Regions from separate parts of the Homo sapiens genome. Here regions 1, 2 and 4 are each linked to region 3. Evidence: fine-mapped expression QTL. A gene starts in region 3. Each other region holds a variant in brackets. All regions are shown on one strand. Distances are between the middles of the regions.

Region 1 (8,182 bases), 96 kb before region 3:
CCCCTTTTTGGCCTTGTGGTGCTTAAAGGATTCTGATGCCAGGAGAGCAGATTTCCTACTCCAATTACTAAGTACTCTGCTAAGAGCTGCTGAGTGACAGCTAGCTCACCCACACTGCAGCCCCTGTCAGGCATTATATTCTGGGATAACCTCCCAAAGGGTTTCTTTGCATAAGAAAGCAGTGTTTGTTCTCCTATGTTTAGTATGTCCATTTAATAGATTGGGAGAGACTACATGACAGTGTAGATGAAAGGGACTAGCTTTCTCCTTTCCTTCCTTTTCTTTTGTGCCCTCTAGTCAGGGATGAACAGGAGAGGCAGAACAGGATAGTGGAAGGGCATGGAAGTTGGAGCCAAAAGGCCCCATTTCAATCCTGGCTCCTGACATTTTGTTTGTGTACTCATGGATATGCCACTTAACCTCTTTGGTCTCAATTTATTATCTGAAAATGGGAATAATACTACTCATCAGTATTACACTCGTAAGACTGGGGATGAGAAAATGCATGTGGAAGGCTTTTGTAAAAATACTCTATAAATCATAGTTCTTTTATTTTACTGATCAGAATTGCTGCTTAGTACATGCTTTTGACCTATGAGATTATCATTCCAGCACCAGGAAACAGGGAGTTGTAAAAAGGTCCACAGAATGGGAGGTGGGTAGGGGACTAGTCTCCAACTCTCTCATGTGCCCCCATCTCATGTGAGATGAGATTCGGGAGATGTGCTTGGCTCTTCAGTTGGCTAGGTATGTGAGCTACAGCAATGACCCAGGAATGTAAACTGCATGCAGCGAAGGGCCCATATTAAGGGTTCAACCTCAAAACAGCTGTCACAGATAAAGGGAATCTGGAACATTCAAATTTTCTTTTACATAATAGTAACAAGGATTTCCTCTTGTTCTTTAAAGGACGGATCCAATTGTCTCTAGTTTTAGACTCATTGGTTTGTGGGTGAATGGATTAGGGATGATGATAATGTTTTGGTTGGAGACAAGAGGCTGTGAGTTCTAGCTAAGTGTTACCATGTTGTGAGATGAAATTTGGGAGATGGGGCCTTCTCTTGGCTCTTCAGCTGGCTAGGTATACCATTCTGAATAGATGACCTAATTTAACGAGGCCTCAAATTCCTTCGGGATCATGGACTAAAAGATCTCAAAGGACCTGATTAAGAAAACTTAAGGCCTGATGAAATGCTTTTTCCTACGTAATTCAAAACTCTAGTGCCACCAAGAAGCCATGTGTTGTGTGTGTGTCTAAGTCCTGAGACCACCCAACTAAAACTTAATCAAGGCACTAAATGAGCCCCTTTAAACTGATGGCATCTGGCGTCAGGCCCAGGCATTTTGAGGGGAAGGAGGGCTGGATGGGAGGGCAGAGGTGACCTCAACAGAGATTTCAAGGTTAATTCTCTCTTGTACAAGAGACTTTCATTTGGCAATATCCTGACTAAGCTGAAAGATAATGATCCACAAATCACAGGAAGAAAAGGGGTCATTTCCTTGTAAAACAACAGTAACTTGAAAATAATTGGCTAAAGGGCAATAGAGCATTCTGCCAGGCTGACTTCAGAGCTGAGACACCCAACTGTAGAGTTCACAATGGTACCAATAACAATAATCACAATGTATACAGTGCTTTTAACTTTCATAAGCACTTTCCCATTTTTTTCATTTTGTCATTATACAACTTCCCAGAAAACTGCTGTGGGGGTAATTTCTTTTAAAACTCTGAAAAACTGTGATTTTTCATGGGAAACAAGCCTAGCTAAGTATGCTACACCTTGCTTTAGATATATAGATAAGCTTCTGAAAAAGTTATTTGTAAATATAGTTGTGTAAGTCATATCTTATTTTAATGCACTAGGGGAATTTGCAAACATAAATCTTGTATAGCATTTTGTAATGTAAATTCTAATTAATCTGTTGTTTGTTACAACTTTGGAGTTTAAAATACCAGGTTTTCTTAAAGTGGGGCCACATGGATTAGATTCTAGGGTCAGTATCCACTCCCCAGGATCCCATAGGGGTGGAGTCTAATTCAGTCTGGGGGAGAGAGTGCTGCCTGTGGTGTCAGCATGGAAAATAAGCTGCTTTGTACTTTAGCCATGGAGCTCTCTGGGACTGCCTTTCCCAAATAAAACAAGGAAACATGGGAAGGGACAGAGAATGCCAAACATAACAGCTGAATTATTTCTAAATGAATGTCTCCAGGTCCTCTGTGAGCCACTGATGTATTATTAATGTGTTGTTATAAATAACTTGCCATCAATAACTAATCTATAACAGAGTAGTTGATGGTTGGGGTGTGAAGTTAACACTACATAATTTGGAGCAGATCTCTTAGCACTCTTATGTAAGTAAGTACCATCCCCTGGGACTAGAATCTGAAATAAATTAGACTAAATTGAATTTTTAATAAAAGTAATAAACCCTGCTGCTTTTTATTCTCTATCCACAAACTCTAGTAGAAGACAGCTCTTTGGAGCCAACCATGAGATTGTAAAACTGCTCTGAACTTCAAATTTCTCCCTCTGAAATTAAGCTAGCAGTGTCTACTTCTTAAATCCACAATGACAATGTGAAAGTTTTATAATTAGTTTGCATGGAAGGGGGTGGTGAACAAGCAAATATATATACAACCATATATATGGTTGAATTATTGAGAATAAAGGGAAAAGCTCTTTTTTTGAGGTGGGGGAGGAAGGGTGATTCAAGCTAGAACTGCAAAAATCCTCACTTAAAGACTGGAAACCCTCAAAAAGAAGTTGTATATTGGCCTGACTAAAGGAAACCTGGCCTCTCATCTTTACTGGTTAAATCTTAGCAATACAGGCTTGCTTAACATGAGTAGCTTAGATTTTCTTTGAAGAGCTCTAAAGTTAAGTTAAGCCTTAGGAAGTAGTTTCTCACAAATGTTCAAGTTTGAGCTTCTGTGAAATAGAGCTAAAATAAATATATATAAAAATATACAGCGTATGTACATAGAAAGGCTACAGGTAGATATGTAGGCACTGGTGGCAAATATGCTAGTAATTATGCTATATGCATCATGTGTGCATGTGTGCATGTGTGTGTGTGTGTCTATGCATACACGTGTCCATTCCATATGTTCAGATCATTCAGAAACTCAAAAGAAACAGAATGAAAATGCTGTTCTTATTTGCTGAAATGTTCTTGAACCTTACATGGATTCATGGCTCATAACTTTTTAAATATAAATTTAGGGCTAATCATGGGAACAGAATAAGCAGCTGTAAACAAAATCAAGTTAGTTAGGATTTCACTAAAACATGGACAGGGCCCCAAATATCATAACTATTGCAGAATGTGGGAATTACAAAGCCAAATACTGTGATTAAAAATACTCTGAATAAGCAATCTTTTTGGAAAGAGGTGGGTAGACGGAACTAATGAAGTGTTTCCGTTAGTTCACATCAGCACCT[T/C]GGACAGTTCCAAGGAGGCTTTCTCCCTCAGAAAGGAGCAAATATCAGTATTTGTCTAGTTTTCTAAGCATTCATTCCATTGAGTGTGTTGATCTGATTATCAACTAATAAATGCAGAAGTATTAATGTGTCATAAAACCTTATTCTTTCCTCTCCCCATCACCCATTCTTTCACCACCCATTTCCCCAGCACCCTCCAGTCAGACAGCAGGAGTCTGTCTTACGACCACCTGGTGTGGATGTTTTCACTCCTACTTCTAATTGGCTGGGAAGCAGCATTTGCCACAGGCACTGTTTAATTTCGTTTCCATCCCCTGCATCTCACAGGAAAGAAATGGTCAATAGTTCAGATAAAAGAATCATCCTGGTCAGCTCCAAAATATGGCTACTTGCATGGTAATCACAGCAAGTCTGTCAAATCAGTGATTTCTTTATTCCTAAGAGGAAGGGATTTTTCCTAAGGATTATGGTTCTACCACCCAAGGAGCAGCCCTACTCTTCAAAAGTGGCTGCAAAGGCTGGCAAACCGAGAGGTCTGCTTTGGCTCAGAAACTCTGTTTGGCTCCTGCCACCCCTGGCACCCTCACTGCATGTCTCAGAGGCGTGTGATCCACACACAGTCAGGCCAGTCTGCTTCTACTTAGGAGGGATCACAACCAGAGGTGGCCCCCGCTTGGGCCTCCACATGAGGACCTGGGCATCATTGGCATTGGGTTTCACTAGTGCATTAGGGGGGATGGGTTCCATCCGGCTCAGGATCCGGGGCTGCTCCTGCTGAGTCCTGCCCACCAGCCGGGCCCGCTGCCCCAAGAGCTGAAGAGGGTCCACTTCAATGTCCACCCTCATCCTCCACTTGATGGTCTGCAGAATGATCTTCTCCTTTGTGGTGGTGTTCATGGCCACCAGCCAGGTCGTGAAACTTTGGTCTCTCTTGATTCTTGTGAGCAGTGGCACATTGCTGTCACTCACAGGCACTGCCCATGTCACACTGGGGTAGAAGTTGTCATTCATGCTGACGGAGAACCTGGAGATCTTGTTGGTGGGGCCAACCAGGGTCACAGTTTCTGTGGTGTTCCCGTACCAAGGGTAGCTCACCCCATCTGAGTCACTGATGGCTTTTACTCTCCCTTCCCTCAAGTCAGGCAGTTCCCAGCTTGACCTGGCAAAGCAGAAGACATGCACAAGAAAAGAAGAGGCTGAATGAATTTTTCAAAAGCTGGAGAGGTGCTCACTGCTTACTAACATAGTCAACTTGGGCAAAATGGGAAGTTCACAGGGGGAATTCAGGGCAAAAAGTTCTATGCTGTGCTGTTTCAGGATTAAATGAGAACAAACCAAAATAAAAATAACAAAGCCATGCCAAAACAAGTTAAATACAACCATGGCTGACCCAATTGAGAACAGGAAGCTCAAAAAGGCAGTTGTGAGACCACAAAGAGACATCAACTAGTTAGATGATGGTAATCAGCAGTTTAGAGGAATTCCATTACAAGAACCACTTTCTTGGAAATATGAATGTGAATAAGGTTTGCTTTTTGGGAAGAAATGATGGTTGAAATTCGATGTACTTGGAAGGCAGTATCTGGTGGAAAGAAGGGCAAAAGGAGGCAAAGTTAAAGGTTATATTAATTTCTTAGGAAATCATAGTAATAGAATTTCTACTTAACAAAGAGGGTTGTTTAAATTCTAGGCATCAGCCAATTCATCGCTTAGGCATAGAAAATCATAACATGAGAAAATCATGGTCATCTTCTGGAAACCATCTGAATGTGAAAGTTGTTCTACAGGCTGGCATACACTCTAATGCACCGCTCTCCCATTGCCTTCCAGTCCAGCCTGGAAGCCTCACAGCTTAGTTTGGCAAACTTGCCATTCTGGCACCTACCTACTCCTCCTGGCTGTCTCTGACCTTGTACAGGAGGAGGAGGAGGAGGAACCAATGTCTCTACCCCCTGCTGTAGACTGTTGCTAATAATAATTGCTGATACTTATTGAGTGTTACTCTATTACAACCATTGTGCTAAGTACATTATCTCAGTCAGTATTCAAAATACTCCACAAGATAAATACATTTTTATTTCCATTTTACACACAAGGGGATGAAGGCTTAAAGATGTTAAGGTACATGACAAAGGTCCTAAAGATTCCAAGAGGTGAAGCTGAGAGTTGTCTGACTTCAAAGTCCCTGGTTTTGGCCACTGTATCATACTGCCTCCCAAAGTACCCTTACACAGCGCTGGAGGGAGTTAGAATGGAGAGGACTCAGGCTGTCTAATGAGTTAGCAGCTCCAAGACCAGTCAGTCATGGAGAACTGGACTGGACCCCAGTAAGGGCAGAAGTCTAGTCAGCAGAGTGTTGATGCATGCTCCATATTTTCGCTCCGGGTACCAGGGATGATGCTTGGTAATAATGCACTAGAATTTAATAATTAAAGAGATGAGACTGCTTTATTCATCAGCTAAGAGGCAGTGGTCTTCTTTGACATAAAGTTCTTCCTCCTATGAGGTGACAGAAGATCCTGCAGGGTTTTATACAAGTTGTCTTAAAGGGAATTGCATTGTCAAGCTAGTGCTGATTAACATCTCAGCACCCTTACTATCACATGGGGACATGGAGACACTAACCACTGCCTCCTACTGACCCCCTACAGTACCTCCTAGGCCAGTCAGCCCCAGCCTGAAGTGAAGGGAGGGCTTGGCTGCCTGGGGAGGAGGTGACCCCACAGCTGCAAGAGCCTTTTTTCTTGTCATGCCCTTGGTAACTGCTGGGAATAGCTGCAGTGTATCATGGTTGGCAGACACTAAGTAAGGAATTGACCTGATGCAGAAAGTCAGAGAGAGCTCATTTTGCTACATATGCTTTTGCAGCTGGGGGGTAGTAGCTCCCAGGTAATTCTATGCCATTTCTTACTGTACAAAAGGGAGTACATGTTCTTTGAGTGGGTCAGAGGTTGTGCAGAGATCCAATCTGCTCATTGGGTTCATGAAATAACCATACTGGAGTCGGTTTCATGCCCCCAAGCAAAGGGCTAAGACAATTCTTCAGTCACAATACATCTATTTCCTGTGTTGCCTAAATCTTGTTTTACACTTTGGCTGTGACCAGTCCCTGCTGGCCTTTGAGTTCCTTCTTAGAATTGGAGGGCAGGTATTCCGAGCAGTGGCAGACTGTTCTTGCTCTCCCCCGCTACACACAGGGCTTACTGTGGCGTATTGCCTGGGGAATTTGGTTTTGAGTGGATGTACTTTTTATTCTGTTACAACACAGTCCTTTTCAGGCTATCTTGCTTTGTCTATAGAGTCTTTATAGTTCTCATATTTTTGCCTCCCATCTTCCTGCCCAGAGCTGTGTGAGCAGAGACTTGGGCCCAGGGTCTGCAAGTCAGCCTTGTAAGACAAATCATAAAACTTAGTTTGGTCCTAGGTTTTTTGAAAAACAACAACAACAAAACAACAAAAAACAGAGATAATACAATAAAGACACACTCTTGTGGCTATCTCAGGAGGGAAGGAAAATACCCTTTTCTTGGAGGAGTTTCTGGAACAGAGAAATACAACAGGCTTCTTAATCATCACATCAGAACAAACACATCTGGCCACATGTAGTCATTGGGAATAGTGACATTGGAGGTTACACTTTAGTTCCATCCACACTGTTGTTACTTCTGCAACTGTGCTTTTGGGAATTCCTCAGGTCAGAGGCATGTTCTCTTCCATAGCCCTAGGGAATTAGGACTACATCATTAAGGGATGGTTTGATTTTGGAAACAGCCAAAATTCATTACGATTTAAGTCTAGTGAATAGGGAGTTGCTATCTGAAAAATATCAAATTTTTCCTTTATGAAAAATAGATACTAATGTACACCCCAAGGCAGTGACCTTCCCTTCTTCCCTCTCTCTATCTCTCGCTCCCTTCCTTTCTCTTTCTCTCTTTTTTTTTTTTTTTCCAAAAGGAGAGTTGTGTCTATAAAATGCATGACTAGTTTATGTAGCTGATAAAATGTCTTTGGTAATGGTTTTTCGAGAAGTCTCTGAAAAGTTCCAAGAACAGTAGCACTATTTGAGTCACTCAATGACCATTTAAGGGGATTACTTTGAATGGAATGCCAGAGGCATTTCAAACTCCATATGGCTCAAACTGAACTCATCATTTCCACCATAAACCAAGCCGTCTTCCCCTGTCTCTCTGCAAGGGGTGGCCCACTGCTCACCCAATCTTCAAGGTCAGAAGTAAGGGCCATCTTTGGCTCTTTCCACACCCTCCCCTAGGCTGCCACAGTGACTGTATCACTGCATCCTGTGAATTTTGCCCCATAAGTGATACTTGAATTTATCTCCTTTTCCCCACCCAACTCTTACTGCCTTCACTTAATCCAAGCCCTCAGCATCTCTTACCTGGTCTACTGGAATGGCGCATAATTTGTCTCTCTGCATCCAACTCTGGTCTCTCTCAAATCCATCTTTTAGGTTGTCCAAGTGTTCAAACATGCAAATCTGATCATGCTCTTTCTATACATAAAATCCTTCCAAGGCTTTTCTATATGGACATCGTTGGCATCACCCACAGGGTAAAATTCAAGTACCTTAACAGGACATACATGGCTCTCCATCATCTGGCCTCCCCATCTCCACACACCATGCCTTTCTCACCTCCACTGCTGTGCCCTCTGCCTATGCTGTTCCTCCTCCTATTCAATTTCCACTGTATCGAACTACTACTCATCCTCTGAGAATCACC
Region 2 (8,182 bases), 71 kb after region 3:
CAGTTTGGGCTCTCCAAGGCCCACAGGCTGAGCCAGCTGAGATGCCCCAAACAGTAAAGGTGGTGGCCTCCCCCCAGGCACTCCATCCCAAGGAGAAATTAGAATGCTGTTAGCTGTGGAATATGGGTGAGGGTGGCTGGAGGCTCTTCAAAGAGATGTAGACTCCCACACAATAATAGTGGGAGACTTCAACACCCTTCTGACAATATTAGACAGATCATTGAGACAGAAAATTAACAAAGTTATCTAGGACCTGAATTCAGCTCTGGATCAAGTGGACCTGATAGATATCTACAGAACTCTTCACCCAAAACCAATAGAATATACATTCTTCTCATCACCACATGGAACTTAATCTAAAACTGATGACATAATTGGAAGTAAAACACTCCTCAGCAAATGCAAAAGAACTGAAATAATAACAAACAGTGTCTCAGATCATAGCATCATCAAATTAGAATGCAAGATCCAGGTCCCATTTAAAGAATCAGTCAGGCCACATCTCGACAAAACAGCCATGCCTTGCTGCGGAACCAGCTCTGCCCTTGTTGGCTTGGACTCTCCAAAGCCCATAGGCTGGAATTGCTGAGTTGTCCCAATAACCAAGGTGGTGGCCCAGCCCTCCCACCACACACTCTCCCCTAGGGAGAGATCAGAGCTCTGTCTATAGAATATGGGAGAGTGGGGGTGCTTGAGGCTGCCCCGGCTGGGAGGTCCCACCCAGTGAGGAGGAATGGATGGGGTCTCGTTTAAAGAAGCAATCTGGACACATTCTGGCAAAGCAGCTGTGCTGAGCTTGGGGGACCCTTCCTCATCTGGACTGCTTGGACTCTCCAAAGCCTGCAGGCTGGAATGGCTGAGTCAACCAAACAACAAAAATCACAGCCCACTTCTCCCCCCGGGGGCTCCATCCTGTCTCAGGCAGGCTCCATCCACCCTGTTGCCGGTGGCTGCTTGGAATTCCAAGCTAGTAAGTCTCATCTTGTGAGGTGCAGTGGAAGTGGGGCCTGCAAACGGATGCTGCTTGGCCCCCTGGATTCAGCCCCCTTTTTAGAGGTATGTACATACAGACCTCCCACCTTGCTGGGGATATCGGGGCCAGGGTATGTAAAGCTCCTGGGTCTCTGCATGCCTGAGCAGCTGCTCTGCTGAGATTCCACACAGCTCTGTCTCAGGCTCAAGGCCCTGGTGGTGTGGGCTCATGAGGGGATCTCTTGATCTGAGGGTTGCAAAGATCTGTGGGAGAAGCATGGTTTCCTGGGTTCACACATTAACTCACCAATTCCCCTGGCTGTGGGTGGGGGTTCCCTTGGCTCCACGTTACTCCCGAGTGGGCTGTTGCCCTTCCCTGCTTTTCTCCATTTTCTGTGGGTCCAGTTGTTTTCCTGATCAGTCCCACTGTGAGTACCTGGATATTTCAGTTGAAGGTTCTGTATTCACTCATCCCTTTTGCTCCTCTCTGTGAGTACCACACCACAGCTGTTTCTATGTGGCCGTCTTGGCCCTTAGCATTTGAAGTGAGTTTTTCAGTTCTATTAGTTCAGTTTGGTTCTTTCTTAAAACAGACATTTCATCTTTCATCTCCTGTTTTATTTTATTGTATATCTTACAATCCTTGGGTTGGATTTCAACTTTCTCCTGAATGTTGATCTTCCTTCTGATGCATATTGTGAATTCTGTTTTTTCACTTCAGCAAGCTTGAGAATCATTGCTGGAGAATTAGTGTAATTGTTTGGAGGTCAGAAGACACTCTGGCTTTTTGAGTTTCCAGAGTCCTTGCACTGGTTATTTCCTGTCTGTGTGGGCTGATGGTCCTTCAATCATTGAAGTCCCAGTCCTTTTGATTTTTTTTTGTTTTTATCTAATTTGATGCCCTTTGGGGTTTGATTATGGTATAGGTGGGTTTGATTGACCGGCTTCAATTCTAGTCCACTTCTGCATTTTGGAGGAGCCTCCTCTGATTACTATCTCCATGTCCACGCTTTTGTTGGGTGTTCTGGTCCATGGGGCTCCCTCTGTATCCTTGCTGAATTGGTCCTAATATGCTGTCTGTGTGCTTCCTCAGGAAACATGGGGTTGAACCTGCCTGCAGAGTTCAGGCACAAGCAGGACTGCTAGGCTGAAAGCTCTAGCAGGTGTAGCCTATCTGGCTATGAGAGGCAGAGTTGGGCAGGGTTGCCCACCCTGCTGTCCAGGTGTTTCCAAGTTTCCAGGGACAACAGGAAGATGCACTCTGCAGGTGAGTTCACACAGAAGCAATACCACTGTGCCTGCAGCTCTAGCAGGTACTGCCTGCCTGGGCTACCTGTGGTATGGGTGGGTGGAGTGGCCAGACTGCTGGGTGAGAAGCTGCCAGCCCCATCTTGCAAGGGGAGGGGGGTGGTGGAACAATCTTACTGCTCCCAGGCACCACAACTGCAGCCTCTATTGGGGCTATGGCACTGGTACTGGTCTGCTCCAGGGCCCAAGGCTTTTAATGATCCCGTTGGACTTCAGAGTTGCCCCCGCAAAACATCTGGGTAACTCTCTGCCTCAGTCTTAAAGCACAATGTGGGGAGGTGCAGAGTGGCCAGGGGGATTCTCCTATTCCTAGTCTTACACAAATCCCTGTGTAGGGTGTGAATCCCCCTGGGGGCTGTCACTTACTAACCCTTTCCCATGTTGGAGAGGTTCTCCTGGCTCCATGCTGAGCCCAGACAGGCTGGTGCCCAGCTTCACCCCTCACTGTCCTCTATGTGCCCCTGCTGCCTTGACAGGTCCTGACATGATTTCTCAGATGATCGGCCTGCAGGGACAGTGTTCCCTAGCCCTTATGCTTTCTCCCTACGAAAGCAGCACACATGAGCTGTTTCTAGTCCACAATTTGGGCCCAACCCCCTCAAGTTATTGAAATTGCTTTTGTAGGGGAGAATTTTTTCTTGAGGATGTATGTTGTTGATTAGGATACTTTGGCTTTGATTTTGGGTGCCTGTTGTAGTGTGATCTTTGTGTATGACATCTCTGGAAGTATGCAGGGTTAGTGGTCTCTGTCATTTCCTTGGTGTCTTAAGGTACAATTATTAGTTGAGTTTTTGTGAAGTTTAGCTGGGGACTTGAATGCCAATTGAGCCAGTCTTTGTTTGGGCCCCCGTGGTGGCAGCAGTAAGGTGAGCGTGCCTGTTTTTAGGCCCCAGAGCAGCTTACACTGCTTCTAGTGTTAATGAGTCTTGGAGGGCTGATTCTTGGGCCTTCAGGTGTTTTGCTTAGAAGCTAGTGGTGGGAGAGGTGGGCCAGGTGTGTGAGTTTGCTCTCAGGCCCCTGAGCAGCTGATGTTGTGTGGGTGATGGCAGTAGCAGTGGTGGAGCAACCCACTGGGACCCAAGTGGTTTTTGTTGGTGTTCCTGGAAGCTGGGATGAGTTCAGTGGGTTAGTCTACAGTCCCATAGACACCTCTAGCAGGGGAGTCTGTATTGTCCTAAGTGTGCTTAGGAGAGCTTGGTCTCCCCTGTCTCTTCCCCAGCTGGGTGGCTACTGTAGCCACATCACCTCAAACTCAGCCTAAGTGCTGGGCACAGCGCCTTGTCAAACTCTCAAAATGGTGCCAGCAATGGGCTTGTGACCAGAGAGGGAGAGACCTTGCTCAGGTGAGCAGCATGGGCAAGAAGCTGTGTGGTCTACTTGAGTTTCAGTTTCACAGCAGTTCATAGCAAGATGTTGAGTATTGTCCTAGGTACGCATAGGAGAGCCTGGCTTTCCCATCCCTCCTTGATGGGGTGGCAGGTGCA[G/A]CCACATTAACTGAAATTTGGCCCAAGAATGGGGTGCAGCCCAGTGTTAAACTCTCAAAATGGCACCTTGGGCCTACCATCAGGGAAGGCGGGACCCCTCCCAGGCAGACAGCACAGGCAAGGTGCTGAGCAGAGTGTGACCCACTCACAGCCCAGTCTCACAGCAGCCCATTGCAGGGCAGTGGGTATTGTTCTAGATATATGTAGGATAGCCTGGTATCCCTGTCCCTCCTTGGCTGGGCATCAGTTGCAGCCACATCATCCTGACCCAGGCCAAAGGGAAAGGTGCAGCTTAGCATTAAAGTCTCAAAATGGTGCCTTGAGCCTGGTACCCTGAGAGGACAGGGTCCCTCCCAGGCAAGCAGCAGCATGGGCAAGAAGCTGTGAGGTTGTGCAGTCTTCTCACATCTCAGTCTCAATAGCAGACCACAGCAGGGTGGCAGAGACCCTCTCAAAGGTGTGTGGGAGCAGCTGGACTCCCCTGCCCTTTTCGCCTTAAAGCAGTGCAGTGGCAGCAGCCATGCCTGCAGATCCCTCATGTCTAGGCTCTCAGAATGGCTCCCAACTGAAGTGGCTCGAGGATCAAATGCCTGTGGAATTCTGTGTGGGGTTCCCTTTCTGGAGAAGTATCTCTGCAATCTTTAGGTGGCTCTTTGTGTCAGGCCTGAGGTCCTAGTAGGTTGAGGGTTTCTTCCATAGCCAAAATCATAAAAACCCATTTAGCAGCCCTGGGGGTTTCTCTCTGTTTCCCCACATTCAGGAGCCTCTTCTGGCTATCAGTCAGTTCCCAGATGGGCAAGGTGCCTCAAACCCTCTCTTTACTTACTTTTAGTGCTTCCTGTCTCTCCTCTGGAAAATCTGAACATTCTCTCCTGGATGCCTTGTTTGAACTGTGAGTATCTACTTACTATTTTGGCTCCTCTCCATGGTGGAGGCATGTACTACTGTGTCTAGTCAGTCATCTCGACTCTACTCCTCACTTTCATTTTTGAAAGGTAAGTTTGCTGGATGTAGAATTCTTGTTTGACAGTTCTTTTTTCTTTTAGTACTTTGAATATATCTCCTCACTGCCTTCTGGCCTCCATTGTTTCTGATGATATGTCTGTTGTTATTTTCCTGGGATTCCCTTTTATGTGATGAGTCATTTTTCTCATGCAGCTTTCAAGATTTATTTTCTTTCAATAGTTTAACTATGATGTGTCTGAGTGTGGGTCTCCTTGTGTAATTCTACTTGAAGTTCATTGAACTTAGATGTGTAGATTAATGTTTTACATTAAATTTGGGGAATTTTCAGCTATTACATTTTTGAATATTTTTTCCGTTCCTTTCTTTCCTCTTCTTTTGGTACTTACAGTACAGGTATGCTGGTGTTCTCATTGATGTCCCACCTTTCTCTGAAGTTCTGTTCCTTTTTTTAAAGTACTTCGCCCCCAACCTTCTATTCTGTAATATTCTTAATCTCTATTGGCTTATCTTCAGGTTTACTGATTTTTTTAGTCAGCTGAAATCTACTTTTGAGAACCATTAGTGAATTTTAAATTTTAGTTATTATACTTTATAACTCTAATTTCCATTTTTTAAAAATAAACTTTATTTTTTTAGAGCAGTTTTAGGTTCACAGAAAAATTCAGTGGAAAGTACAGAGAGTTGTCATATATCTCCCACCTCCACTTATATGCAGCCTCCCCACTATCAGCATCCTGCAATGAGTGGTGCATATACTACAATTAATAAAGCTGCATTGACACATTATTATCACCCAACATCCATAGTTTACATTAGGTTTCACTCTTGATATTGTGCTTTCTATGGGTTTTGACAGGTATGATAATGTATCCAACCATTTTTGTCATCATACAGAATAATTGCCCTAAAAGTCCCCTATTCATCCCTCCTTCCCCCTAGACCCCTGACAACTACTGATCCTTTTACTGTCTTTGTGGTTTTGCATTTTTCAGACAGTTACATGGTTGGAATCATACAGTATATAGCCTTTTAAAATTGGCTCCTTTCACTTAGTGATATACATTTAAGTTTCCTTCATGTCTTTTCAGACTTGATAGCTAGTTTCTTTTAAGGACTCAAATAATTATCACTTGGATATACCACAGTTTGTTTATCCATTCACCTACTGAAGGACATCCTAGATACTTCCAAGTTTTGTTCATTATAAATAAAGCTGACATAAATATTTGCACAGGTTTTTGCATGGACATAAGTTTTCCACTTAACTTGGGTAAATTCTAAGAAGCATGGTTGCTGGATTGTGTGATAAATGTATGTTTAGCCTTGTAAGAAACTAATTGTCTCCAATGTAACTGTGCCATATTTCATTCCCACCAAGCAATAAAAGTTCCTGATGTTCCATATCCTCACCAGTATTTGGTGTTGTCAGTGTTTTAGATTTTGTGATTCTAATAGGTGATACCTCATTGTTGTTTTAATTTGCAATTCCCTAATGACGTGTAATGTTGGGCATCTTTTTATATGCTTATTTTCCATCCATATATCTTTGATGAGTGTTTATTTGTCTTCTGCCCATTTTTAATTGGGCAGTTTTTTTTTATTGTTGAGATTCAAGAGTTCTTTATATACATTTGCTTCTTTTTTTGTTTTTGCTTTTTTTAAAATTTTATTATTATTATACTTTAAGTTTTAGGGTACATGTGCACAGCGTGCAGGTTTGTTACATATGTATACATGTGCCATGTTGGTGTGCTGCACCCATTAACTCGTCATTTAGCATTAGGTATATCTCCTAATGCTATCCCTCCCCCCTCCCCCCACCCCACAACTGTCCCTGGTGTGTGATGTTCCCCTTCCTGTGTCCATGTGTTCTCATTGTTCAATTCCCACCTATGAGTGAGAACATGTGGTGTTTGGTTTTTTGTCCTTGTGATAGTTTGCTGAGAATGATGGTTTCCAGTTTCATCCATGTCCCTACAAAGGACATGAACTCATCATTTTTTATGGCTGCACAGTATTCCATGGTGTATATGAGCCACATTTTCTTTTTTTTTTTTTTAACTTTTTTTTATTATTATACTTTAAGATTTAGGATACATGTGCACAATGTGCAGGTTAGTTACATATGTATACATGTGCCATGCTGGTGTGCTGCATCCATTAACTCGTCATTTAGCATTAGGTATATCTCCTAATGCTATCCCTCCCCCCTCCTCCCACCCCACAACAGTCCCCAGAGTGTGATGTTCCCCTTCCTGTGTCCATGTGTTCTCATTGTTGAATTCCCATCTATGAGTGAGAACATGCGGTGTTTGGTTTTTTGTCCTTGCGATAGTTTACTGAGAATGATGATTTCCAATTTCATCCATGTCCCTACAAAGGACATGAACTCATCATTTTTTATGGCTGCATAGTATTCCATGGTGTATATGTGCCACATTTATTTATCCAGTCTATCATTGTTGGACATTTGGGTTGGTTCCAAGTCTTTGCTATTGTGAATAGTGCCGCAATAAACATACGTGTGCATGTGTCTTTATAGCAGCATGATTTATAGTCCTTTGGGTATATACTCAGCAATGGGATGGCTGGGTCAAATGGTATTTCTAGTTCTAGATCCTTGAGGAATCGCCACACTGACTTCCACAATGGTTGAACTAGTTTACAGTCACACCAACAGTGTAAAAATGTTCCCATTTCTCCACATCCTCTCCAGCACCTGTGGTTTCCTGACTTTTTAATGATTGCCATTCTAACTGGTGTGAGATGGTATCTCATTGTGGGTTTGATTTGCATTTCTCTGATTGCCATTGATGATGAGCATTTTTTCACGTGTCCTTTGGCTGCATAAATGTCTTCTTTAGAGAAGTGTCTGTTCATGTCCTTCGCCCACTTTTTGATGGGGTTCTTTGTTTTTTTCTTGTAAATTTGTTTGAGTTCATTGTAGATTCTGGATATTAGCCCTTTGTCAGATGAGTAGGTTGCAAAAATTTTCTCCCATTCTGTAGGTTGCCTGTTCACTCTGATGGTAGTTTCTTTTGCTGTGCAGAAGCTCTTTAGTTTAATTAGATCCCATTTGTCAATTTTGGCTTTTGTTGCCATTGCTTTTGGTGTTTTAAACATGAAGTCCTTGCCCATGCCTATGTCCTCAATGGTATTGCCTAGGTTTTCTTCTAGGGTTTTTATGGTTTTAGATGTAACATTTAAGTCTTTAATCCACCTTGAATTAATTTTTGTATAAGGTGTAAAGAAGGGATCCAGTTTCAGCTTTCTACATGTAGCTAGCCAGTTTTCCCAGCACCATTTATTAAATAGGGAATCCTTTCCCCATTTCTTGTTTTTGTCAGGTTTGTCAAAGATCAGATAGTTACAGATATGTGGCATTATTTCTGAGGGCTCTGTTCTGTTCCATTGGTTTATATCTCTGTTTTGGTACCAGTACCATGCTGTTT
Region 3 (8,182 bases):
GGTACAGCCAAATCCTCAATAATCTTGATTCTGAAGGAGGAGTAGAGGGACAGGCAGGACCTGTCTCTTGAAGCTATGACTGAGCTATGACTTCCTAAAGTTTCACACAGGCCAAACTTTTCCAAATTGGCAGTGGAGATGGTTTCCATACTATCAGCCCAGCCTGACCATTAAAAGTTCCCTTATAGCCCCAGAAGACTCAAAGAGAATGAGAAGGGGCTTTAGCTATTGCTGGTTTTCCCTGACCTTGTCTTCATCTCATTCAACCCTGGCACAAGAGCCCCATTCCTTGCTCAAATCTTACTCAGGAAACCTCTTCAGCGTTGTACTCCAGCATTCAAAACTGTTCCATTATAAACGTCTTCCACTTCTGTTGGAAAGCTTCTGCATACTCAAGAGGTATAAAGAAGATAGGAAGAGCTTCCTGACATCCTCTGTCTGGTCAAGATCTGACTTTAATCTTTTCCTTTTCCAGACTATGTTATTCTGGGCCCACCCAACAGACCCCAAGCTACCTTTCAAACCTCATCTCCTACTGTTCTCCTTCTTGAACACTCCACTCTGGCCCACTTATGCCCCCTTAAAACACCTTCTATTTTCCTACCTCCATATTTTTGCTGGTCTTCCCCTTTGGAATTAGTCCCTCCTCCTTGCCTACCTGAATATTACCCATACCTCAGAGTTCACCTTGAGTCCATTCACCTCTAGAACACCCTGCTTGGCCCGCCAGCGCTCTCAGGCATTTCTTCCACACCACCAAAGAGCGCTGCTTTTCTCTGCATTTGTCGTCTTATAATGAGAAGCAGTGAAAACTGCCTGCATATTCCTTTTTCTTTGGTGCTGCTGCCTGCACAGCAGAAGCATTTGGTAAATGTTTGTATATTGACAGGTTGATTGAGAGAGTCAGGAGCCCTTCCTCCCCGAGGGATGAAGACTTGCAGCAGTCTGTTCAAGGCTGCACTAGCAAGATTCACCAGGGCCAAATGAGAAATAAATAGGTGCCACAACTCTTCACCAGCCTGGTTTCTATAGAATCATTCGAGGAAGTGCCATGGAAATGAGTTCAAGTTCAAATTAAGCTCTGGCCATCATAGCCATCAACTATTTCAAATGTTCTTTTAGAAGCCTACCCCTTCTTGGAAAAGTTTACAATTTAAACCACAAAACCTCAGGCTTTCTTTCAATCCTGTAAACAGGAGTTTCTTGCCATTTTATGTTGTGGATTTCCTCTGGCACAATCCTTTTCAAAATATTGAAAAGGCAGTTTTCTAATCCAAACCCTTTCACCATATTGTGGTTCATGTGACAGAACACTGCACAGAGGTGAAAAATCACTCCATGCTATTTTTTACAATCCAGATATTGGCTAAAGTAGACATAATAACTAATAGACTGCAGCAACTTTCATGCAATATGAATTCCCATTAAAAAGTTTACACTAGCAAAATTTTCCAGGCATAAATATCTTGTGGAAATTGGTTCATTCAAATTTGGGCTCCAAAGTGGCCTTTAACACATAGCAATTATTGCAACCATGAAGAAACAGGTAGACTGTGGACACAAATCTATAATAATATGCTTTATGATTTATTGGGGGTCTATTTTTGCTCTCCTACATCTACATGAAAACCAAGAATCTTAAAATATCAAAAGTGGCAGTTTAAAAACAAAACCACTTTCCAAATCCCAAATGCAAGGATTCAGTGGGGAAGGGTCAGGAATCCTGTCACTGATTCATATCCATTAAAGTTGGTTCCAGTGAGGACATACCTTCCCTATAGATTCCAGGAAGTTCAACTACCATGTCTGTTTATATCTCAACTTGACTTCTCCTAAGGTAAAGTAAGTTTTACGGAAATAATTCTGTATTTATATATTTGCTTTTACTTATTCATAAGAGATTTGAGGCAACAGAGAGTTCCGCTGTGCAGTCTTGGGAAAAGTGAGGCTGCTTCTGCACAGTCACTCCTGGCTTCCTCTACCAGGGGCCCCAGGCTGCTGTGGGGAGCACTTGCTGTCCTCCAGCAACCCACTGCCATCAGGGTGAGGCCAGGGAAATGAGAGGAAGGGCTCTTGCCCTGCCTGTGGCTTTCTCTGACTTGGCTGGAAACAATGGATTTATTTTAAAAAGCAGTTTTAAGAGACACATGTGTTCACATATAATCATTCTTTTGAGGGTATGTCAGTTTTTAAATGGCATGATTCGCCCCAAATAAAATATCCCCCATTTCTCACATCTAGCTGTCTTCTCTGGAAGAATACAGTGTGCTGAGGCATATTGGAAACTGGGCCTCACATTTCTTCACTAGGAATTGAGTTTTCTCAAGGATTAAGCTTTTGTGCTTAAAGAGAAAAGTGCAAAATCTTTGGGAGGAAAAAAGGAAAACAACGACCTGTCAAATTTCTTTTAGCGCCTATGACTAGTGTTAACTGACATGCTCTCAGAGTGCAATAAAAAGCCTGCAAACTGCTGCTAAAAAGATGGTTTGACCTTTTAAAATGGGAACTCCCCCACCCCATATCCATATTAAATAGACGAACCTTGGGAGCTCTAGAGTTTTAGATTAATAAGTGAAATGAGGTTGAATTTCCAGAAAAAGGGTTTCCCTGTAGGCTGCAGACTGGCTAATTAGGGTGTTCTAGACCTACATTGTAACAGCAGGTAGAAGGCAGGCCCTAAACCTTTTAGCTATTGTCGTTGCCACCTGCTCAGAGTCTAGTTCTGAAAGGAGGCGGGTGCGGAGTTATGAAAATTTGGTAAATATAAAAGTCCCGGACGCGACCGCCCGTAGCCTGCGGCCCCTGGCGGTTGAGGAGCCGCGGCGATCCTTGGTCTTCACCGCAGCAGCCAAGCCCGGCGCGCACCAACCGGCGCTGCTGAAAGTTGGAGAGCTCCCAGCTCGCCGATAGAATTCGGCGGTGGGCGCCAGGGGAATCCCTTCCAGTGCCGCAATTAGGAAAGTTTTAAAAAGTAAGGACCCTAGACAGACAAGAGATCCATCCTTTCCTTTAGCATAAGAAACACCCCGCGCCGCGCCAGCCGAACGCTGCTCGCACAAGGCTATCCGCCCTTCTTGGCCGGGACGCACTCGGTGCCTTCCAGCTCCCCACCAGAACTGGTCCAGGGGGCGCGGAAACAGAGAGGCAACTGTGTCCGGCTTGTGGTTCCAGACGGAAACGCCTCCGGGCTCCCTGGCCCGGGGGACAAGGGTTCGAAACTTCAACAGTCGCGAGGGCAAGGACAGAACTACCAACTCCCGCTCGGATGCCCGGGACCTGCTCTTCCAAGCCCGCTCCGGTTTCTCCAAAGGACGCGCGGCACAGCCCATGCGCCCCCGGCACTCCACTCCACTCCTCTATGGTTTCCCCCAAACTCTTCCCGGGGAGCCCCACAAAGCACAGACGGCGCCCTGAAACTCGCCAGGCACTCGCCAGCCATCCCCACCTCCGCCTCTCGAACCCTCCTTGTCGCGTTCTTCCCGCCCCGCACCTTTCTCCTCGCGTTTCTGGGAAGTCAGAAGCAAACCACGAGAAAATGCCTTCGCAAGGAGCCTCCCTACACCCGCCCTGTCACTGAAACAAAAGCGTAGGGAGGAGGGAGGTGGGAGAGGAGGCGGGAGGAAGGTTTAGAAAGACGATGGGGACAGCAGTAGGAAGGAGCTGGGGAGGGGGGTCAAGGTGGCAAGCAGAGCTGGGGGCCCAGAGTCCGCTCCCGTGCCGCGCGGCGAGTCGCTTACATGCCCAGGTCGCTGTAGGTGTTGAAGAACTCCATCTGATTGCACGCCTGAATCCAGCCCACCACCCAGGTCTCGTGGCGGGGGATGGGGGGCATGACCACGCGGGCGGAGGCTTTGAAGTAGGGGGTCTTGTAGCGCAGGACGATGGGCGAGGTCTCCTCGATGCGCGTGGGGCACTGGTCGATGGTGGCGCACACATCGTACACCACGATGTTCTCGCGCCGGATCCGCGCCTTGCAGGTGATGCTTTGGATACAGCCCATCCTGCAGCCCGGTGCCGGCACGGCGCGGCGTGGGGCAGCGCGGGGGCCCGCGCGGGCAGCCGGGGGCGCCCGTCACGCCGGCATGGCGACGCGCCGCTCGCTCCCGGTCAGACTCAGCTCGCACCTAGGAGCGGGGAGCCGCCGGGCATCCTTGGGGAAGCCCCCTCCTCTTGCAGCCGCGCGGGGTCCCCGCTGCCCCGACGTCCGCCCACGCCCGCCCCCTCGCTCCGGCAGGGCGCGCGGAGGGTGCACTCCTAGGAGGCGGCGGGTGCCCTCGCCGGCTCCAGCGCCCGGGCGGAGGGCAGGGAGGGGAGCGGCGCTGCGAGGAATGGTGCCCACCCCGGGCCGGAGCCCCCCGCCCCTCGCCGGAGAGGAGGAGGCGGCAGCGGCGGCGGCATGGAGCCGGGGGAGGGCGGCGGTGGCAGCGCCCGGTCTGTCTGCCTCCGCGGCGGCAGCAGCAGCAGCCGCCGCCGCCGCCGCCGCTGCATGAACCTCTGCACCACGGCTGCCCCCCGCGTGCAGCGCACCCAGCGGCGGGCGAGCGGGCGGCCCAAGAGGCAGGCGGAGGCAGCAGCGGCGGCGGCGGCGACCGGAGCTCCCGCCGGCCCCGCCCCGTAGCCGGACCACACCGACACTCCTCGGCCCGGCTGCCTCGGCCCGGGGGGCGCCAGGAGGCTGTGGCCCGGGGTGGAGAGCCCCAACGGCTGGAGCAGCACAGGACGTGCTCCGCGGAGGAAACTGGCTGTACGCCATGAGTTTTGTCCCTATTCGGCTGCCGTCCGGGTGGGGGGGGGGTAATGTGTAAGGGTGGGGGTGTTTAAAGGGCCGCTAGCGCCGGGGTGGGGCCCCGCACGTGGGGCTGAGGCGGGGCGGGGCCCTGGTAGGTGGTGCCCTGGGGTGGGGGTGGGGGACTAGGGCGGGCCCAAGCGCCACCGGGTGGGTGAGGCCGAGCAGGGCGCGGCGCTGTCCAGAGTCCAGTGGGGAACCCGGTAGCCCAGTAGGGGCTGTAGAGTGAGTGTTTCGGGCAGCAGAAGGGTTAGGGGAACAGCTTTATCAGAGATTGGTCGTTATTCAGAATATAGCTTGTTGGATTAGATTTAGGCTTGAGCCCTTTTAGTATCCTACCTTCAGAAAGGGTGAAGGGCGGGCTCCAGCAGCGTTACTAAATGCAGTGTATTTGCCTCTTTGCCTGACTGGGTTTGTTCTGGAAGCTCTTCTTTCCACCACTGTGTGTAGTGGGGATACCGGAAGAATCCCTCCGTACTCCAGCACTAAGTCTCTCATATGCCAGAGTTTTGGCAGACATTGGGCATTGTGTACAGTATGACCACGGTCATGTGTCTGATACTGCAGTCTAATGTGCCAAACAGGAAGAATATTTAGCAGATGCTTTTACTAGGCATCTTCTTACATTTTTATTTTCAAAGCCAATAGCTTCTAAGTATTTCTTCTGCGATCATTGAACATTTGCTGGATCTGCTGCCCAAGTGTGAAATACTGACTAACAGGCCGCAGGAGGTGCTAGAGTTAGTCTTTAGCTAGGACAGGTGTGACGAGTAATTTAAAAATTGATTGAGATCTAAAAGCACTCTTCATCCTTGTTTTAACTGTTCTGACACCTTGGTTCACTTTATAGTTAACAAAAAAGCAGTTTTTCCCTTTGATGACTCGTCTCTCTCATTTTACCGTGTAGCCACAGACCTCAATCACTGGTCCTTTCATTCAGCAAAGGCTGACTGCCTGCCTGGCAGGAGCCAAACATAGTGCTAGGTACTAGGGATTCAAAGTTGAAAAAGAGCACATGGATCACTGGAGAAAATAAACCTGTTAACAAGTTATTATAGTAAACTGTGACACCTGCTTTAGTGGGGTTGTGTATCCAGTGCCGTGGAAGGCCAGACATGTAAATCTCTGGCCACATGTAAATCCCTCAGTGGTCAGAGAGCCACTCAGTGGCTCTCTGGCCACTGAGAGATTTACGTGTGACTTTGCTCAAGTAGTGACATTTAAATTGAATACTGACAGACTGTAGAGTCTCACTGAAAAGAGAAAGGTGAATGAGTAGTACAGGACCAGCATTTGGCAAATGCAAAATGCATAGAGATATGAAAGAACTCATCCTGTACTGAGGGGGAGAAACAACTCACAGTCAAGGCATTTCTCAAGGTGTTATGTGTCGACCATGGGCATCAGAATCACTGTCCAAGAATCAATTGGTTGTTGATAGACCATATCTTTTTTCTTTTTAAAATTAAGACTACAGACTTTATTTTGATTTTACTAGTTTTTCCACTAATGTCTTTTTTTCTCTAGAATCTAATCCAAGATATGATGTTGCATTTAGTCATTACATCTCCTTATTCTTCTCAATCTGTGACAGCTTCTCAGTCTTTCTCTGTTTTTCATGACCTTGACATTTTTAAAGAGGACTGGTCAGATATTCTGTAGAATTGTTCCTCATTTGCATTTATCTGATGTTTCCTCATGATTAGACCAGGGTTTTGGATTTGGGGGATGAATACCATGAAGATGAAGTGCCTTCTCATTGCATTATGTCAGGGGTACATGATAGCAATATGACTTTTTACTGGTGTTATTAACCTTGATCACTGGGTTTGGTGAATAATTTTTTTAACTTTTAGGTTCAGAGGTACAGGTGCAGGTTTGTTATATAGGTAAATTGCATGTCATAGGGGTTTGTTGGACAGATTATTTTATCACCCTGGTAATGAGGATAGTACCCAATAGGTATTTTTTTTTTATCCTCTGCCTCCTCCTACCCTTCACCCTCTAGTAGGGCCCAGTGTCTTCTCTTGATAGGACCTTATCTTAAACTTCAGTGGAAGCCAATGAAGGCAAGCCATGCATTTTGAGAAAAATTACTCTGCATCCATATAGAGAATAGAGGAGGCAGCGTTTCAGAATATTGTGATGACAGATACTTTGACCCTCGGCTAGCTTGGGGCAGTGCTGTGGGGCTGGAGAGGCCTGGCTGCATTTGCATTTAAGAATCACTTAGGAGGTAAATGTATTTACTTGGTAACTGAACAAGGTGATAGAAGGGGAAGCAGCTTGGGACTGTGGGTGATGTCATGTTAAGTTCGAGGTTCTTGGAGGTATTTGGGGGGCAGGGTGGGGTCAGAGTTTGAGTTTCAGTGGTTATTAGGTTCCAGGCAATAGACCAAAAGGAAAGCATTTCATTGGGGAATGTAGTTATGTTTCTTAATTTGAGTTGCTTGTCAGGCTGCAGTTTTGTGGATAAATAACTCCTTTGTCTTCTGGTGACACATGTTAAACCTTCATAAACGGGGAGGGGAATGGCAGCCTTTCCCAAAATATAGGGAAATCACATAAGGAAGAATATCTTATTTTTCAAACTTAAAATAAGATTTTGTTATATTTAGTAAAGCCAATAAAATGTAACATTATTCATGGACTTGGACCCTTGACATTCTCAGAGGGTTCATCCATGACCTTGGTGAGTCTCCAAAATCATGAATGTCATCATGGCATATAATTTCCACCATAAAGTACGGTAAAGTGTAGCTGAAAAATGTAAAGAATCTTTTTAGACTCTTAATGGTTCTATGAATATGGGGCCAAAGTAATTTCTAAAGCTACTTAAATAAATTTTGCCATTAAAATAAACTTCTTACTTCATTACCTTATATCTTTACCTTATTAACGCCCTATTTCCCTGACTCTGTGAAGAAAAAATTGATCACAGTATGAGAATTATTGTGCGGATGTCGATGAGAAAGTAAGGAGAGCTAAGTGGTACTGGGACACAAATGCCAGTGTTAGGAGTGGTCATTCACTAGCTGAGTGGCTGGCAAGTACACTCTGGCCTCCTGGCAGCCCCATTCAAATTTGTGTCTCAGCAAATTACCTCATGACAGGGACCTTTTGGATTACTCACTGGGGGTTTTTATCATTCATGCATATTCAGTCTGCAAATGCCAATGCAGGGCTATCTGTAGCTCAAATGAAATCCCCAGAATTTGCAACAGTTTCTCTGTGCTGCTCTTCTAAGTTTCTCTTTCTGTCTCCTCATGGTAAGTCCCTTGCTTCTATTAACACCTTTAAAGCTGTTTCACAGTTCCTTGCTCACACTTGTCTCTCCCAATAAGCTGTTCACTCCTCAAGAGAATGCACCATCGTGCCCTGTTGCCCAGCCTAGTG
Region 4 (8,182 bases), 24 kb before region 3:
GCAAAAAATACTGGCAGGGCAGGGCTTCTGCCCTCTTAGATCTCTCTAGCCCTCCTTCCTGCTCTCACAGTGGGCATCCCACTAGTCAATGAGTATGAACTTGTGTTTGGAACCTGGGACACTGCACCTAGACTCTCACCTTTACAGAAAGAGGATGACGGCAGTAGGACCTAGAGGGGACGGAGGCTGGGTTTCTGGGACTTCAGTTGGTGGTTTCCTCATGTCTGTCTCCTACTTCTGCCCCTCCTCACTCCCCTCATCAAAGGCTTCATCCCCAACTCTCCTGTTCTCTGTCTCCTCCTTCTCTTCCTCATGACTCACTCTCTCTGGTCCTTCAAGGAAGTTGCCCACCCCCTGTGTTTCTCTTTCTTCATCCTCAATATCACAGGGATCTCAAGAAAAAGCAACCCCTCCACCCAGACCCCCACCACAATGCATGTTTCTAAAGTACTATTTTTTAGGTGCCTTTTCATAAGAACAGCCCACTGCATCTACCTTATCTCTCTTTTTAGAGTGACAGTTACCATTGAGAGGAGGTCATGATTTGGCTTAGTGGTGTTAGAATAAAGAGATCACACATCTTCGCTAGCCTTAGATTCATGGGATTGCTGGGCTAAAAAAACCTAACAAGGTCATTTAGTCTAAGCAGCCACTGGAAGCAGATTTCTAAGTACTAAACGTATTCCTGAACACAAAGAGCTCAATAGTTCACAGGCAGCTCGTTTTGAGGGTCCAAGAAGCTCCTCTCCATTGTGTTTGTTTTTGAATTGTTTCTGTTCACTAGAATGTCAACTCCATAAAGGCAACAAGATTTTTGTCTGTTGTATTCATTACTGCATCATTATTGCTTAGAATAGTGCCTTGCACATGGCAGGTACTCAAATATTTGTTGAATGAATTAATAATTGGTCTTATTTATAACCTGTGGGGCCTTTCAAGATAATCTAATCCTTTTCATCTTCTACATGACAACCCCTCAAATAATTCCAGACAGTTGTCATGTTCCCTGAGTTGTCTCCCTCCCTGAATATTTTATGAAGAATTTCCAGATCCTTTGTCACATTGGGGTGTTCTCCGAACGTACTCCAGAATTACAAAGCAGCAAGGGGGACACCAGAAATTTTTCTAGCTAGCCCACACTCTCATTTTACAGACAGGAAAATGGAGGTCCATAAAGGTATAGCAGCTTTGTTAGAAGGGGAAGCCTAGACTCAGGGTTTTATCTAGTTGGAGATGAGCCAACATAAGAAACTTTGTAGGCAAAACAAATCCCAGACCAATACATTTCCCATCATCTTGATGCTGTCCCTATCAGTAGAAGAATTCCAAAACAAGTGTCTCCAAGACCAAACCACTGTAGTTTTACATGCAAGCAGACTCTTTATTCATTCAACAGGCATTGAGAGTACTGTATGTGCTATGAACTATGCTGAATTTTGGGGATACAGAGTTGAAACAAAAGTCTCTACACACTTGATACTTACAGTCTAGTGGAGACACCCGAGACAATAATTAAAATTCTATAAAATGGCCATAGTGATAGAGGGGCAGAGTCGAGAGGGAACAGAGAAGGAGCCCATAAGGCAGCCTTGGGGAGGTGGTGAAGTCTTCCTGGAGGAGGAGGTGGCATTTGAACATCAACAAGACCACACGCATCTGGGATGGGTTTGTGACTGGCTTCAGCACCAACTCTAACACATAGTTCTATAGCTGGCAGAGGAGGCTGCAGGGCTGGTCTTAACCAGACTAATGAATCCCAAAGGCTGTTCTTCCTGTGGACACGATCAACCAGGTCTGTGCTGCCCCAGAAACAGCACAGTATGGTCTTTTAACCAGAGAGCTGAACCAGAGAGCTCATAAGAGTTGCTTCCTCATGAAAAAATCCAAGTTTGGCTGTCCTGCTGTGAGGTTGGAGGGAAGAGGCTGGGCTTTCCCACATGCAAAGCCAGGTGGCAGCCTCCCTACTACCACCACCAGAGGAACCTTGGAGGAAGGATGTGACAAAGGCCACGCAGGATGAGGGAGAGGGTAAAGGCAGGTTTCTGCAGACCTTTTCAGAAGACTGCTTCAAATGAGCAGGAACGAGCTTAGAGCACACGTTTCTGAAGCCTGCAGCAGGGCTAGACTCTTCTAAGGAATAAGATGGCCTTTCTAACAGTGGCCTGGACATTCCAGGAGCAGTAGCGTTGCTCTCTACCCCAGCAAGGCTTCAAATGTGCAGGCTACACATTCACTCTTTCCCGTAGCACAATCCACCGCCAACATGCGGCTTCTAAGCGTCCTGGAGAATGAAGGCTGACTTGCCAGAAAAAGTGAGCCCACAAATGGATGAGGAATCAGCCCCAGCTTGATTGCTGCCTGGGAGGATTTGGATTGGATGGTGGAAGTGAATATGTAAACCGAACTCCAGATATTGTTGGGGGCCAGAAACCATGGTCATAAATCTGGGAAGCCAGACAACAGCATTACAGGGCTTCGGGCCTTCAGGAAACGATAGTTAGGATGACCAATAAATCAGACTTGACTTCTTAACTGAGCCAGAGCAGCGAGAAAGGCACCATCATCTCTGCTTAAGGGAAAGATGATAAAGCTAATCCAAAGGAGACTTCTGTCTTTTGTGAGGCTGCTGATGCTGAATAAGCCATCAAGGCGTGCCTCAGTTTTCCTTACTGCAAATGGTGGGATAAGTGGCTGATTACTAGAAAATAGTGTGGTTTGTTGAGGTTCTCTAAGAAAACACTTGAGGCAAAATACAACAAAGAAGCCTTTTTTGGGGGTATGATTTGTATCCTCCCTGATCACTGGTCTACCATTGATCTGTACTATGGAGAGGAAGTGACTTGAAGTTTACAAAATGGTTTTCCATAATTCTGGGGCATGGGGCAGCAGCAGAAGCTGCTCTCAAAACAACCCTGTGAGGCAGGTAATATTATCATTAGTGCTCAGAGGAACCTGGCAACTTACTTGGAGTTCATAGCCAGCAAACAGCAGAGCTTTGACTGCAATCCGGTCTTTAAACACCAAAGCCAGGCTGCTGCACTGCCTATGTAAACGAATGCAGCACAATTAGAGGGGCATTAATATATCAGAAATGCTCCCCTGACATTAAAGGCCAGGCCAGTGGGCAGGTGGAACCCTCACAAAGGGCTCACCTGCCGTAGTCCAGGAAATATATATGAAGTGCGTACTGGGGCAAGGTGCTGTGCTAGGTACTGGGGACAGCAATGTGCAACGTACATAGGTCTGATCTCTGCCCTCATGGTCTCTAGTGGAAGACATAGACAAGATGCATGTACAGTGAGACAAATGGTTGAGAGGGCAGGTGCCAACCCTGACCACACCAGAGGTTTGGGGACATAGAAATCTAAGTGGGTTTTACTCCAGTTATCACGCAAGATATTCCTCTCCCTGAACATCTTTATCATAGAGATCATTAAACAACTGAAAAAACAGTTTGGACTACTACTTCTTGTATA[T/C]TCTTCACATAGTTTTGAAACTCCTTTGTCTAAGACAGATTTTCTTAAAGCTATTGTAACTGAGTGTTTACTATGTGCCGGTAGCTAGGCCCATAATAGGTACTGAACAGTTGTTAAACTAGTAAATGCAGAATCTTCAAAAAAGCTCTGCAAAGGAGGCATGTTCATACCCATTTTACAGATGAGTAAAGTGTATTCCAGCTTGGAGGTGATGGGAGGTACGTATCTATGTGAGGCCTGTCAAAGGCTGACTGATAGATAAGTGGCAGTTACCTCTGGTGGCTACCCAATGCACAGTCCATCACAGCTTGTGTTGGCTTTTGCATGGACACTGACAGATGCAAAGCTGTATGTGCCAAGAACAGACTAAGAGTGCCCTGGAACTGGAGTAGGGACAGTGCTCTGGGATGGATGACCATTCATCCATATCATCCAATGCTGGATGAGTACTCATCCATATCATATTGATATGGAGAAAGGGAGGAGGCAGGCTGAGAGATGCTGGTCCTGCAAAGTTGTGGTGTTCTCTCCTGGTCTTGGAAGGGCATGCCACCTGTGAGAGGTCCCAGGTGTCCTTGCCCTGAGCACAGCTCCTCAATGATCAGACTGGCTGTGAAGGTGAGTGGCATGGTGACCAGCCCTGCTCTGACTTGGGACAGTCTGCATGGAAGGGACAGCTGCCTTGTGGAGAGCTATACCCAGGCAGGTCACTAGGGGACATTATGCAATGGAAAACCATTATTGGGGAGTGGAGGGTTAGACTGCACTTAAAGGAGGTTCTAGTGTCTTGAACCACTAGGGTCTATTGCAGCTTGAGACTCTGCACCCAAAAATCTACTTCCAACCTAGACTCTCCCAGACTCTCCCTGTGCCCTAAGTCTTCTGGGTGACAGCTACCACCCAGGCCTGGGAAGACTGCACAGCTGAGGCTAGGACACGGGGCAGCAGCAGAAGCCTGAAGTCCACAGACAGAGTCAGTGGTGCATTAGCACCAGCACTTACTGAGCACTGGGCATTGACATATGTATGGTGCACAATGGGATTCCTCCCCTCAAGGATCTTGAGGTCTAAGTGGGAAAAGAGGAAGACTATTTTTATTTGAGGATTGACCACAAAACAAAGAAACTGGTTTCGTTTGTGATTTGAGGAATCATTTTCATTACTTCAGGTTTGGGTATAATCTTTATCTCTTCAACCAAATTATAAGTTCCTCAAGGGTGGAACCTTGTCTTCTAAGTCTCTTACCCTTACCACTGTAGCACATAAAAGGCCCTCTAGGCACTTTTTAAATGAAATGATGTACGGGTAATGGGTCGTAAAAAGTGGGCTAGTCTTAAATCTACTGAATACCACAGGCCTAGAAGGATGAATGGGTTGAAGGGTTAATTAAGAAGGAATTGTGCTCTTGCCCTGTGTCAGGGCACAGGGTGCAAACATGAGCAGCACATGGTTTCTTAGTTCAGGGAGCTCAGTCCAGAGAGGGCCATGGTTTGGTCAATGGTACAGTAGTGTAAGAGGCCATAGAGCCCAGTGGTTATGAGTGTAGACTCTGGAGCCAGATCATTTGGGTTCAAATCTCAGCTCTTAGGAGCTGTGAGATGTTGGGCAAATTAGGTAATTTCTCTATGTCTCAATTTCCTCATCTTTAAGTAGCCATAATAATGACAGTACCCAATATAGGGTTGTTGTGAGGATTAAATGAGTTAAAACATAAAATATTTGCAAATGTATTAACTATTAATATATAGTAGAGGCTGGGACAGTGGCAGGGAAGAGGCCTAATTCAGACTGGGGGAAGGGTGCCAGGGAGGGCTCTGGGGAGATGCACAGGTGTCTTCTAGGAGAGGAGAGGGTAAGCCTGGCTGGGGAACAGCATATTCAAAAGTCTAGAGGTATCACGGCTGGGAGCTACATGCCATGTGGTGTAGCTCTGCCCTAGTGCCAAGGAGAGACTGGCAGATGAAGACAGGCCAGAGATGTTTCAGAGATGTTTCTGGTTCCCTATCTAGGAAAGGTCAGGCCAACAGAGGCTTGGCATTACTTGCTAAGGCGTGTAAATTTCATCTTGAAGGGAATGGGGAACCTTAGGAGGCTTTTAAATAGGAGAGGGTGATATTATCAGCTTTCTATTCTGAGTTGCCTACTCGGGCTGTGGTGCAGAGGACAGGTGGTGGAGGGGAAGCATGTGGAACCAGGAGGAAGAGGGTCCTGATGGGAGGCCATGGCAGTAATGAAGGTGAGAGGCAGTGAGGGTTGCTCTAAGGAAGTGGGGTGGAGAGGGAAGCAGAGATCTGAGAAAGATCAAGAGGTTAAACAACAGAACTGCATATACTAAAACACCATAACTGACAATACATTGAGCCCTTAACCACGTGAGCCCCTGTGCCAAACACTTCGCATGGAGCAACTCTTTTAGTCTTTACCCAAACCCTATGAACCACAGTGTGTGTGAGGGTTGGGGGCAGGATGGGGAGGGAATGTCCCTCCTCCAGAATGTCCTTAGGAGCTGAAGGACAGATAGATGAGATACAAACTGCTAACACATCTGATGACAATAAAAAAGGAGGGTGGTTTTATTAAGGCGTAAGTAATGATGACGCATCCAAAATAGCTGACAAAAGGCACCAGAGAACTCCTGGGCCCAAATTAATGTGGTTCCAGTGACCAGGGTTCCCAGGGATGAAGGGCTTGGTGGGTGCCCACTTCAATTATTTAGGAGATGAACGCCAAACTCTAAATTTCCTGTCAGTCTGTTGTGTGTGTGTTAGCGTTTTCACAGATCCCTGCTCAGGCATTTGGACTGGGGAGAGCTGTGAGTAAGGCTGGGGAGTGGTGGTGGGGGGGTGGTCTAGAAATGGGCCCGATTTTCCTTATGAATGATCTTGATGTGGGTGTCACAGGAATGAAATCAACAGATGGCAATACATTTGTAGGAAATGAAAGAGACAGATTTAAATCCAGAATCACAGGAACCCTTAAACTGCTTCTATGCAAGGAAGGCATATGAACATTAAATATTTTTGAAAGGATTAGCTCAACTCTGATCTGTCTCTGTCCAAAGGTGGGAGACAGGGATGGGGAGAAAGAGGTTGGTTGTTGTCCTCATGATGGAGCAGGAAGGATCAGAGAGTAACAGGGTGGGCGGAAAGGGGGGCAGAGTGAGGTCCCCATTCATCTTAAACTGTACTAGCTCTTGACAGACAGGGAGTGGGTGGCTGTTTATCTCTCAAACCTCAGCTATTTTCTCCAGCAACAAGGTGTAAACTAACTTTCCTCAAGGCAAAAAATCTTCAGCTGCAAGAGGGGAAAAGCACATCAAAGGTATAGAGCCCACAAAAGAAGGAGAGACCTGCCACTTAAACCCCCTTTCTGTTCTTTACCATGGCACCTCACCCAGGGGTTTTGCTGTGAACCCATCAATCTTTCCATAAAAAGGCAACCCACTCCTCTGATTTCCTGTCCATGGAAGGGAGAAGTTTGGGGTTTCTTTGGAAAAGACAGAGATGGGGTGAGGGTTGGGAGGACTCACCACCACCTACCAGACTTGACTATCATTTTAAAGGATACATCAGTCCCCAGTTCCTTGAATCTCAAACCACACCAAAGAAGACAGGTGGGAGGATGGGGGAAATGCCCTCAACTTGGGTCAGGTCTATTCCAGTCATGGTAAAGATTGTACCAACTGGTTGGCCCTGGGACAAAAAAGCTGAACCCCTCTCAGCTTCTGATATCCACAAACTAAGGAGGCCAAGCACTGCAGGAATCACCATCCCTGCCTCAGACTTCCACCTCTTCCATCAAAGCTGCTTCCATCAAGTTTATCTTTGCAAGTCAAAGGTGCCTCCTAAACATGGTACCAAAGCAAGATTTTACATGTTGGGTGTGCTTCCACCTGTCTCACTTCCCTGCCTGAAGCCTACGTTCCCAGGGTGCATTAGGGCATCCTGTAGGTTGGCACCAGGTGCCATCATGTCAGCAGCACTTTGCCCATGCTTTCAAAGGGAAAGAGGGCGTTTTGATGGGCAAAGAGGAGGATGTAAGGGCCTGCAAGGTACAGGATATTTGCCTGCCTCTCAGTTGCATGGAGGAGGGGAAGGGATGAGTCAGATGTTTTCCAAAATTCTCTTCCAGCTGCTTTAGGACTCTAAGACAGGCCACAATGCATTATCTTAGCAAAAATCCAGCAAAACATCTAGTCTTGGATCTGTAACTTATCAAAGACAATCTCAAGTCAGACACATTTTTGGCATCAAATGAAGCCCATCCACGCAAGCTTTTCAAATGAAAGGTGACTAACACTTTTTCTTGGTTGGCTGCACATTAAACTGATGTTAAATTCACAACCTGAAGGCCAGTAGTGTGGTAAAGTAAACAAATACTGGATAATGAGTCAGAAGATACTGTTTTAGTCTTTTGTCTCCTCCTTCTGGCTTTGGACAATAAATATATTAAGGGGTAAGTTATTGGTCTAAAATTCTCTTTTTTTTATTGTGTCTCTGCCAGGCTTTGCCCCTTAAGTCTCAGTCTTAGTTCTTTTCATTTGCGAAGGAGAGATGATAGCTTCTCTGCTTCCTCTCACAGCTACTGTGAGGAGCAAAAGAAATGTGAATGAGAGCACTTTGTAAACTTCTACTACCTGTATGAAGGATGAAGGATGGTTATTATTAACATTGTTTGAAAGGTCCAGAATCTTCCCTGAGGACAAT

What was found. PIP is the estimated chance that this variant, and not a neighbour inherited with it, causes the effect.
Region 1: its variant is the best candidate, but not a certain one, in a credible set for the expression of FAM78B in blood mononuclear cells (TOPMed, PIP 0.69).
Region 2: its variant is the best candidate, but not a certain one, in a credible set for the expression of FAM78B in tibial artery (GTEx, PIP 0.72).
Region 4: its variant is the best candidate, but not a certain one, in a credible set for the expression of FAM78B in whole blood (TOPMed, PIP 0.52).

Annotation. Positions count from the first base shown.
Region 1 is chr1:166,066,162-166,074,343 of GRCh38, forward strand. It overlaps FAM78B (family with sequence similarity 78 member B), which reads right to left. Exons shown (of 2, transcript NM_001017961.5): 2 at 3,138-4,602. The coding sequence ends at 4,080. Among named protein-coding and RNA genes, the nearest start is that of FAM78B-AS1, 10 kb to the right of the region's middle. RefSeq lists a silencer at 3,338-3,538. The variant T/C (reference allele first, on the strand shown) is at 3,444.
Region 2 is chr1:166,233,183-166,241,364 of GRCh38, forward strand. The region is part of intron 1 of LOC112268276 (a long non-coding RNA gene); the gene reads left to right. Among named protein-coding and RNA genes, the nearest start is that of FAM78B, 70 kb to the left of the region's middle. The variant G/A (reference allele first, on the strand shown) is at 3,765.
Region 3 is chr1:166,162,249-166,170,430 of GRCh38, forward strand. It overlaps FAM78B (family with sequence similarity 78 member B), which reads right to left and starts at 4,753. Exons shown (of 2, transcript NM_001017961.5): 1 at 3,738-4,753. The coding sequence starts at 4,000. It overlaps LOC112268276 (a long non-coding RNA gene), which reads left to right and starts at 3,629. Exons shown (of 3, transcript XR_002958633.2): 1 at 3,629-3,806. RefSeq lists enhancers at 3,620-4,522, 3,694-3,863, 3,964-4,013, 7,928-8,007 and silencers at 4,404-4,463, 4,504-4,993, 7,028-7,087.
Region 4 is chr1:166,137,980-166,146,161 of GRCh38, forward strand. The region is part of intron 1 of FAM78B (family with sequence similarity 78 member B); the gene reads right to left. Among named protein-coding and RNA genes, the nearest start is that of MIR921, 13 kb to the right of the region's middle. RefSeq lists an enhancer at 1-132. The variant T/C (reference allele first, on the strand shown) is at 3,477.